Linked DNA regions of Homo sapiens: region 2 is linked to region 1. The links come from fine-mapping of genetic effects on gene expression. A gene starts in region 1. The other region holds a variant in brackets. All regions are shown on one strand. Distances are from middle to middle. Region 1 holds the start of KCNAB3 (potassium voltage-gated channel subfamily A regulatory beta subunit 3). Region 2 has its middle 32 kb from the start of CNTROB.

The links. PIP is the estimated chance that this variant, and not a neighbour inherited with it, causes the effect.
Region 2: its variant is the best candidate, but not a certain one, in a credible set for the expression of KCNAB3 in subcutaneous fat (FUSION, PIP 0.56).

What each region holds. Positions count from the first base shown.
Region 1 is chr17:7,927,440-7,932,664 of GRCh38, forward strand. KCNAB3 (potassium voltage-gated channel subfamily A regulatory beta subunit 3) reads right to left here and starts at 2,417. Exons shown (of 14, transcript NM_004732.4): 1 at 1,755-2,417; 2 at 344-387; 3 at 218-255. The coding sequence starts at 1,996. TRAPPC1 (trafficking protein particle complex subunit 1) reads right to left here and starts at 4,507. Exons shown (of 4, transcript NM_021210.5): 1 at 4,292-4,507; 2 at 4,067-4,137; 3 at 3,572-3,710; 4 at 2,910-3,295. The coding sequence starts at 4,390. The coding sequence ends at 3,167. It overlaps CNTROB (centrobin, centriole duplication and spindle assembly protein), which reads left to right and starts at 4,767. Exons shown (of 19, transcript NM_053051.5): 1 at 4,767-5,225. RefSeq lists enhancers at 4,221-4,460, 4,801-4,850, 5,071-5,130, 5,161-5,225.
Region 2 is chr17:7,961,577-7,967,061 of GRCh38, forward strand. No RefSeq gene overlaps it. Among named protein-coding and RNA genes, the nearest start is that of CNTROB, 32 kb to the left of the region's middle. The variant T/TTA (reference allele first, on the strand shown) is at 3,210.

The DNA.
Region 1 (5,225 bases):
GGTAAAGATCAACTACTGCTCCTCAGTTACCTCCCTCACTGTACTCTAACCCATCACATCTCAGCCCTGGGTTCTCTAGTCTCTCCCCTCTCCCCATCCTCCAGCCTCAGATCCCTCATTCCCTGTGCTTGTTGTCCAAACCCCTATCCAGGTTCACTTCCCTTTTTTCAAGTTCCCTCACCCCCACCACCCTGATTCTAGGTCCGATAACTTATACCTCATCTGAGATCTGAGAACCAAATGTGACCCAGGTACCTGCAAGAGAGAAGCCAGGCACATGAGAACTGCAGGGGGCAGACCATGAAAGAATGCCCTCCTTTCCTTAATCCCTATTCTGACTCACCTAGGCCAAGACAGGATACCCGAAGACCAGACTTCCCTAGGTTCCTGCAAGATACAGAAGCAGCGGGAAGGGGTGGAGCCTCCATTATGGACTTAGATTATCAGCCCCCAGCTCCTCTCCTTCCAGACTGAGAAGCCCTCAGGTGTCTCAGTCCAAAGAAATTAGACCCAGTGGGCCTATAAGATTGGGCAAGTGCTATCTCCAGAGCAGAGGTCCTAGGAATTTTCTCAAAAGGACAAGTGAACCATATGTGACTGTTCCTCTGGAGCCACTGTCCAGAGTCTCCATTCCCTCTTATCACATTGAAGACGTGCAGTCTGGTTTGTCCTTCTTCTGGGGTCTTGTCTGTGTTTGAGTCATCTGTGGGTTGTGTGCAGTGAGGGGCTGGGAGGAATTTTGTTTGATTGTGGTGAGTTTGTGAGACCAGGCCCTCAGGCAGAGTGCTGTGCCAAATGGTAGATGGCAGGTTGGAAGAGGTAAACCAAGTCAAGTTCAGGCATTCAGACAGACAGGGGTCCCTGGCTAGGCTAGGCAGATGGGCCTGGAGGAAAGGCAGATTGAGGACCTGGGGGGAGGGGGGAGAGTAAGACAGAAAAGCCTAGTTCTCCCTCTCCACTCCCTCTGTTCCTATTGACTTGTGAAGACTGTCTCTGAACCAGTGAGCCCCCTCATCCTCCCAAAGCCCCCAACCCAGGTGTCAGCTCAGCTTTCCAATCAGGGCCACCATATAGAGGGGATCAGATTCCTCAGGTGACAAAGCAGGTCAGATCAGTGACCTCAGCTCACTCCCAAGCAGGAGCCCCTCCTCTACCCCCTACTTCAGGTTCTGAGCTTCTGGTCTGGCAGTCCTCTGAGATAAAGTCAGTTACATTTCAGTCTACCCAGACCCTGTCCCTCAGCATGGAGATGAAAAATGTGGTCCATCCTTCCCACCGGCCCCACTCCCCTTGCACCCAAGAAAGGTCGCAGAAGACCTAGCCTTTGGGGCAGGCAGGGGCAGTATCTGGGTCAGGCACCCCGAGCAGGCCAGAGTGAGAAGCTGATTCCCTCCCTCCACTCCCCAGGACACGGACCCAAGGACACTCCACTGGAGGAGGCATAGCCTGGAGATCCGTGTAGCGTGGAGATCCATGCATCCCTGACCTTCCCAGGGGTAAGGAGGGAAGCTCAGGGGCATCCCCTGGGTCTGACAGGACCCAGTCAACCTTGGTAAACTTGATTCTCGTAGTCAGGGGTATCGACAGAAACCAAGAGAGGGACAAAGTGAGGGAGTGCCAGAGACAGAAAGAAGAGATGGAAAGAAGGGAGACCTACTTAGTGAAGTTTGAAGGGGTCTTGGCGGCCATCTCAAGCAGTCTCAGGGGTCCCGAAAGGAAAGCGGAAGGGGTGGGCTGCCCGGCCACCCCCATACCTGTATTTCATGCCAGTGCCTCGGCCGGTGCTCTCTCGGAGGGCCCCAGCGGGCGCTGGGGGTCGGGGAACCAGTGCAGCTCGGGCCTTGGGGCCAGACCCTCCACCCCCCGGAGGATTCCCGTGCCCCCCGCCGGCCGGCCCACCATTACCGCCCCCGGGGCCCGGCCGGGGTCCACACAGACGGTCCTCACTGCTCCGGCTGCGAAGGTTCTGCTCGGTACACGCGATAGACACCTGCATGCTGGCTGGCCGAGGCGGGGGAGGGGGCTCCGAGGGGACGGGAGGGGGGAGCAGGGAAGCCCGAGGGCTGACGACCGGGGGCGTAGTGGGGCGAACCCCGGCAGAGCGGGAAGGCTGAGGAGGCTGCGGCGGGAGCCGCCAGGCAGGATCGGGCCCGCGGGGGCGGGCTGCTGGAGGTCGCGAGGTTTGCGGCGGGAGGGAAGAAACGTGGGGGGCGCCAGGAGTGGAGATATTCAGTTACGGGGGACACAGGAGCAAGGATTAGGAGGGGGAAATGGATGAGGGTAAAGGTCGAGGATGAGGTAAAGGTCTCGGAGGATAAGGACCCAGGGGGAAGCGGGGCGGGAGAGAGATGCCACTTCAGCGCGAACCGCTGCGGGACCCGCTGGGCTCCCAGCCGCGTCGGCAGCGGGCCCAGCTCATCAGCATGCAGGCACCGCCTCCTCATCTGCATAGAGCCGCCCTCCTCTCAGCCAAACCTGCCGCTCATCTGCATAAGCCCCGCCTGCTGAAGGCTCTGCAGCTTGAATATTTTCTGAGCGGAATTGGGGAGGATGGCTCCTGCACCCTCTGGGACCCAAGGGCTGTCAGGCTTCCCCCGGCCCAGTGATTCTCAATCGGGAGGGAATGTATCTCCCAGCGTACTTTCGGCAAGGTTTGGAGATATTTTTGATTTCATGCCTGTGCTATCAGCATCTAGTGGGTGGTGGCCAGGGATGCTAAAATCCTACAAAGCACAGGACGGTCCCCACAATAAAGAATTATCCAGCTCAAAGCATCAATATTCCCACGGTTGAGAAACCCATCCGCAAAGCCACTTCGTGGCCCTCCAGGGGGTGTGGCTGCCCTACTTTCCACCTTCATGCGTGGGGCAGGACTGAGAGGGCCCTCAAACCAACACGCTCAGGCCGCAGAGAGTGACAAAAAGTTTATTCTGTGCTTCTCGCAGCATTAGGCAGGGGATAAAACTGGAGAGAGGGCCTGGTGTGGAGGTGGAGGGACTCTGTGGGCTTCACTCTGGTAGGAGGAGAGCATCAGGGCAGGCCTTTAGGCTGTTGCTCTGGGCAGGGGGTGGGGGTGCGGGGGCTTACAGTGGGGGCCCTTAGTTGGCACAGGTTCGGAAGGGCCCCAGGCAGACATGAATTCTCCTGAGACTTGAGGTAGGTTGCTTCAGCCAGCCCGGGCGGAGAAGAAGGGCAGAGAGCGAACATAGGAGTCCAGTCGGGAGCGAAAGAGCTCACTTTGCACAGTTTGGCCCAGCGGGCACAGGGGATTCTTCACCACCAGCTCCACATACAGCTATGGAAAGGGAAGATGTTAGAGCCAGGCTTTGGATACTTCTGGTTTTTAGCCCCAAACCTTGTATAACCTCAGGGGTGTGTGAATGCACAAGGAATAAGGGCTGGAAGGCAAGCCCTCTCTGAGGAGAAAGTGGTGGTGGGAGTTAAGAACCTAAGGGCCCCTGAGAAAACTCTTGAGTTGAGCAAACATATAGTAGGATTGGGGCAGGGGAGATGAGGGAGTCTTGGGGTTCTGAAGAGCTCTGGGGGATGGGTCCCTGGGGCTGGCACTGACCGCACTGTAGATGTGGTGCAGCACATCTCGGATGGGTCCCACGCCCAAGTCAGTATTCATGACAACTTTGATCCCAGTGGGCGTCTCGTAGTAATGGAGTTTGTAACGGCTAGTTTGGAAGGCCAGGAAGCCATCCTTCCTGCAGAGATGAGGAGGGTGTTAAAGAATGGGAGCAGAATCTCTCCCAAAGAGACACTTCTGATCCCCGCAAACATCGACTCCCTCTTTATCTAAACATATCCTTTGTAGAAGCCTGGTTGAGTAAAGACATCGCCCATCGTCACCCCTCAATTTAGCCCCCACCAACTTCTCTACTTTCAGACCCTCCCCACCCCCACTCCTGCCAGCTCCAGCACTCTCGCTCCGGACTCAGCCTCTCTTAAGTACCCTTTCCCCCCTCTGGAGGCCAATGCTCCTTCCACTTCAGAAAGTTTCCCCCATCCCCAAATTCCCAAGGCTAGCCCTCCTCCCAACATCTTCTCTGACTCCGCGTACATGTCTAGCGGGGACATCTTGCTGACAAACGAGCGGATAGAGAAGAGCATCCCGTACATCAGCTTATACTCCTGGAGGGAGAGGGGCAGAGTTAGCTCTCGGTTGATGCGGGAGATGGGGTGGGGGGTGGGAACGAGCTGGGGTTTGGAGAGGAGGGGCTGGGTTGGGACTATAGGTGTTTGGAGATGAGAGGTCGCCCGGGCTGCACCGGGGCCCTCTCGTCACCTCCTCCTTGGGAATCCCTGCTTGCTTCTTGCGGTGCCATTCGCTGTAGTGCAGACACACTCCATTCCGGTCAAACAGGTACAGGTTGTGGACAGTCATCTGCAGGGCAGGGAGTGTGAGCCTCGCTCCGGGGCCGCCCCCACTCCTTGGGCTCGGGTTCCCGGACCCACAGCCTTCCAACCAGGTGGGGACCCCACCCACGGACTCACCGGAACTGCTCCGAGTGCCCGTCAAGAGTTACTTCCGGTTTCCACGGAGCTCCGCCCCTTAGGGGGGTTCTCGCTCGGCCGCGGCTGGGCATTAACTCCGCTCCAGTGCTGCTTGTCAGACTCCGCCTCCCTCCCTCAGCCAATCTGTGGCCACCGGAGCCGCGCACGCGCGGCCAGGCGCTCGGGATACAGAAGTGATGTGAGTGTCTGCGAGCGTGGTCTCGCGGGCGGGTGACGTCATCGAGGCGAGAGAGGCGGAGCCGTGGACAGTGGGCGGGAGGCTGCCAACGGTTTTGAGCGTAGGGGGAGGCGTGAGAGGGGGATCTCAGGGGAGGAGGTCAATCGCTTGCCCCCCACTTTGGCAAATTGGGGACTGAGGACTGGAAGGGTGGAGAGTAGGCGGAACCAGGTGGTCGTCGGGGCAGAGGATCTCGGGCTAGGCTTGAGGGCGGCGTGCTTCTTAGGGACGACTTAGGGCGTGACTGAGGGTTCACAAGGTTTCTTTTGGGGTGGTCGGGAGGGAGAGATTCTAGGGAACAAGGAAGCTCGCTATGGCTTTCTTGCCAGGAGGGGTCGAAGGGAAAGTACAAGGGAGCTGGAGCTGACCCTGGGTAGAACGGGTGAAGGGATGGGGGAGCGTGAGGTTCCGCCCTCTCTTGAGACTGGAACCAATTGAGGGACTAGTAGGGCAGGGGGACAGAAATTGGGCTCCTAGTGGATTTGGG
Region 2 (5,485 bases), 34 kb after region 1:
GGCTTTGTCTGAATACTCCCTTATCTGACTAAAAGCAGAAACTTCTGGGAGTGAGACTGCCACTAGCCCCCTCTCTGGAGGAGTTTCACGGCTGTGAAGAAGATGAAGAAGACCACAAACAAACATGATGAAGAACCATCTTGTCTCCTGGTTTGTTCTCCTAAAAATACATTTGTCTTTCCTAAATAAACCCATTTGTTCTTCCAGTAGAAGCCTTTTCCTCCCTGCTCCTTTACCCTTATTAAGGTAGGCTTGTAAATCCCTGTCTTTAGTTATGGATAAAGTCATTTTCTTTGTGGGTTCCTAGTATGTGAATAAACTTTATCTTTTCTTTTGTTAATCTGTCTTTTGTCAGTTTAATTCACAGCCCCCCAAGAACAGCATCTAAGAGGGTGGAGAAGACATTTTTCCTCCCTGACGCAAGCAATCACTTCAGAGTCTTCTTGATATTTTAGGTAGAATTTAGGTACTCTAGTTCCCGCAGGGGGATTCCAGTCTCAGACAACCCACCGCAGTAGGACCGCTTCAATCATACTTCATAATGATTTTCTCAGTATGAGCTTGTTGGCTTAGAGCTGCGGAAGAGAAGTCACAAAGAAAGCCTAAGGTTTCAGAGAGCACTGAGGTAAGCTCAACCCAGGTCTCAATTCAATTTCTAGAAGAGGAGGACACTAGTGGAAATCATTTCCATGTATATCCTGTATTTCCAGGGCCGAAACCAATACAGTAGTATGTCTGCTTCTTACAGTTTTTTTTCCCTATGCTTATACACTTTTATTTTCTACATTTTTGGACTCACACTTACGTATACTATTTTGCACCTTTAGCTTATACTATTTATTAAATATATATTTATATTGTGAAGATGAACATTTTTCAGGACATTAAGCATTTTCTTTTCTTTTCTTTTCTTTCTGAGACAGTCTCACTCTGTCGCCCAGGCTGGAGTGCAATGGCATGATCTTGGCTCACTGCAACCTCCGTCTCCCAGGCTCAAGCAATTCTCCTGCCTCAGCCTCCCGAGTAGCTGGGACTACAGGCATGTGCCACCATGCATGGCTAATTTTTGTGTATTTTTAGTAGAGACAGGGTTTCACCATGTTGGCCAGGCTGGTCTTGAACTCCTGACCTCAGGTAATCCACCTACCTCAGTCTCCCAAGAGCTGGGATTATGGGTGTGAGCCACTACGCAGGGACTGCCTGCCTGCCTTCCTTCCTTCCAAGGCAGGAGGATCACCTGAGGTCAGGAGTTTGAGATCAACCTGGCCAACATGGTGAAACTCTGTCTCTACTAAAAATGCAAAAATTAGCTGGGTGTGGCAGTGGGCGCCTATAATCCCAACTACTCGGGAGGCTGAGGCAGGAGAGTCGCTTGAACCCAGGAGGTGAAGGTTGCAGTGAGTCAAGATCGCGCCACTGCACTCCAGCCTGGGCCACAAGAGTGAAACTCCATCTCAAAAAAACAAAATAGACATTTGAGTTCTAAAAAACAGGCATTCTAGTTTGAAGATACTCCAACTAAAACTTCAATGAACATTCTTGTGCAGTTTTTTTTGTTTGTTTTCTTTAATATAGGGTCTCGTTGTGTCACCCAGGCCGGAGTGCAGTGGTGTGATCATGGCTCACTGTTGCTTCAACCTCCCCGGCTCAAGCGCTCCTTTCCTCAGCCCCATAAGTAGCTGGGACTACAGGTGCACACCACCATGCCCAGCTAGTTTTTGTATTTTTTTGTAGAGATGGGGTTTCGCCATGTTGCCTAGGCTAGCCTTACACTCCTGAGCTCAGGAGATCCTTCTGCCTCAGCCTCCCGAAGTGCTGGGATTACAGGCGTGAGCCACTGTGTCTGGCCTTCTTGTATAGGTTTTTTGATGGACATGTGCTCTTGTTTCTGTTGAGTATTTATCTAGGAGTGAAATTGCTGGTGGCTCTAGATTTAGCTTTGGTTTTCTAAAGTGGTTGAACCAATTTATACACCTCCCAGTAATGCATGAGGGTTCCAGTTACTCCCCGTTCCCACCAACATTCAGTATGGTTGTTGCTTCCCATCTTAGCCATTCTGGTGGCTGTGCAGTGATATCGCACTGAGGTTTCAATTTGAATATGCATATTTTATTATGAAAGTAATATATTTTTATATATGTAGAAAATTTAGGCCGGGAGTGGTAGCTCACGCCTGTAATCCCAGCACTTTGGGAGGCCAAGGTGGGTGGATCACCTGAGGTCAGGAGTTCGAGACCAGCCTGACCAACATGGAGAAACCCCGTCTCTACTAAAAATACAAAATTAGCCAGGCGTGGTGGCAGGTGCCTGTAATCCCAGCTACTCAGGAGGCTGAGGCAGGAGAATTGCTTGAACCTGGGAGGTGGAGGTTGCGGTGAGCCAAGATCGTGCCATTGCACTCTAGCCTGGACAACAAGAGTGAAACTCTGCCTCAAAAAAAAAAAAAAAGAAATGAAAAAGAAAAGAAAACTTAAAAAGTGCAGGAAAGAATAAACTAAATATCATTTGTACCCTATCATCCTCTCCCCTCCACCAAGCTCCATTGGATTGAAGTATTTATGTACAATGTTAAGGTTGTACTGATTTATACTTCCAGCATCCATGTATCCCTTTTTTATCCTGAACTGGGATTATTTTAAAAGTTGTCAATTTTGGTATCTCCTTATGGTTTTATTTATTATTTCTTTTATTTCTATTGAAATTGGACTTTAAAAAATTTTCAGGTGGTAGTGTGCACCTGAAGTCCTAGCTACTGGGGAGGCTGAGGCAGGAGAATTGCTTGAGCCCAGGAGTTCAAGGCTGCAGTGAGCTATGATTGCACCACAGCACTCTAGCCTGGGTGACAGAGCAATGTATATCAAATGTATTACATATTTTTTATTTATTATATTATATACATATACATTTTTATTGTTGTTGTTGTTTTCTTGAGACAGAGTTTCACTCTTGTTACCCAAGCTGGAGTGCAATGGTGAGATCTGTGCTCACTGCAACCTCTGCCTCCTGGGTTCAAGTGATTCTCCTGTCTCGGCCTCCCGAGTAGCTGGGATTACAGGCACGTGCCACCACGCCTGGATAATTTTTTGTATTTTTTTAGTAGAGTTGGGGTTTCACCATGTTGGCCAGGCTGGTCTTGAACTCCTGACCTCGTGATTTGCCTTGCCCTCCCAAAGTGCTGGGATTACAGGTGTGAGTCACCGTGCCCAGCA[T/TTA]TATATATATATATATTTTAAAAGGCTGGGCGTGGTAGCTCACACCTGTAATCACAGCATTTTGGGAGGCTGAGGCAGGCTTGCTTGAGGCCAGGAGTTTGAGACCAGCCTGGGCAATGTAGTGAGTTTAAAAAAAATTTTTTTTAATTTTATTGCTCTTTATATTGTAGTGTATTTTATTTTATTTTATTTATTTTGAGATGGAGTCTCGCTCTGTCACCCAGGCTGGAGTGCAATGGCGTGATCTTGGCTCACTGCAACCACTGCCTCCCACGTTCAAGTAATTCTCCTGTCTCAGCCTTCTGAGTAGCTGGGATTACAGGCACGCACCACCATGCCGGGTTAATTTTTGTATTTTTAGTAGAGACGGGATTTCACTACGTTGGTCAGGCTGGTCTCGAACTCCTGACCTCATGATCTGCCCGCCTCGGCCTCCCAAAGTGCTGGGATTACAGGCGTGAGCCACCACACCTGGCCTATATTACCTTTTAAATAAATTGTCTCATTTCCTTTGATGAAACAGATTTTTATCATCACACCTAATGAAACAGCATAAAAAATAGTTTACATGGTAATCTCATAAATTAGTAGATATGCAAACATTCTAAATAAAATTTTAGCAATCAGAATATAGTATAAATTTTAATAAAGTATAATTTTTAAAGGAATTTTAAAGGTGTGGTAGCTCACACCTGTAATCCCAAAAGTGTGAGAGGCTGAGGCGCAAGAATCGATTGAGCTCTGGAGTTCCATACCTGGGCAACATAGCAGACCTCATCTGTACTAAAAATAGTCCCAGCTACTCTGGAAACTGAGGCGGGAGGATTGCTTGAGCTCGGGAGATTGAGATCAGTGCTATCATCATGCCACTGCAGTCCACCCTGGGTGACAGAGTAAGACCCTGTCTCAAAAAAGAAGAAAAAAAGAACATGTACTTTTTAACCAATTCTGTTTTTGAACTTATTTCAAATGGTCTTTCATTTTTGTTTTTCTGTCACTTATAAACATCCCCCACTAAAGCTCAATTTTCCACATAACCAATAATATTATTGGAAAAAATTCATATAATTATTTCCACAAATGCCAGAGGGAATTCTTCATGGAAACTCTCCCTAAAAGCAATAAAAGGTTGCCTCTTTAACATGACAAAAAGGCTCTATTGAAAACCAAAAGTCAAAATTACACTTAATGGAGAACATGAATTATTCCTCTTTAAAATAGGAACAAGACAAGGATATCTTATTACTACTATTCAACGTAGCTCTAAAAATTCTGACAAAGCTATTTGAGAAGAGAAAGAAAGATATACATAAAGAAAAGGAAGAAATAAAATGATCATGTTATGCAAATGAAATGAAAAGCACCTCAAAATTACTAGAGATAATAAATGAAGGCATCAAAGAAACAAGATATAATACAAATTAATTTAGGACAATTTTCCTCTTGATAATAGTGCATTTCTCATTTTTGTTCTTTCTTTCCATGCATCCCTTTCTGTTTTTATTCTTAAAGCTTCATGATTTTACAATTTATAAGTCCTGAACATTTTGTGTTAATCTTTTCTCAGATATTTTAAAGATTTTTTAATCGCTTTTATAAATGGAATTTTTTTTGACATTACATGTACTTTATTTTTCTTAAGTGTTTAAAATAAGGCATTTCGGCCAGGCACGGTCGCTCACGCCTGTAATCCTAGCACTTTGGGAGGCTGAGGCCTCCTCAGGTGGATCACCTGACGTCAGGAGTTCGAGATGAGCCTGGCCAACATGGTGAAGCCCTGTCTCCACTAAAAATACAAAAATTAGCTGGGCATGGTGGCATACACCTGTAATCCCAGCTACTTGGGAGGCTGAGGCAGGAAAATCGCTTGAACCCAGGAGGCGGAGGTAGCAATGATCCGAGATCGTGCCACGGAACTCCAGCTTGAGCAACAGAGACAGACTCTGCCTCAAAAAGAAAAAAAAAAAGGCATTTCTTTTGTAATCTAATTATAACATTTGCAGTTATTTGGAATTGTCTTTCATTTCTGTTTTTCTGTCACTTATAAACATCAGTCATTCACAATGACTAATGATAGAGGTACATCACGTAAGTATAGATGTAAAGTATTGTTTAAGAAAGCTTAGGTATTTATTTTTCGGGCTTTCATGTTGTTATGCTGTTCCTACTCTTCTTCTTCTTCTGTTTTTGTTTTGTTTTGTTTTGTTTTTTTGAGAAAGAGTCTTGCTCTGTTGTCCAGACTGGAGTGCAGTGGTGCAATCTTGGCTCACTGCAAC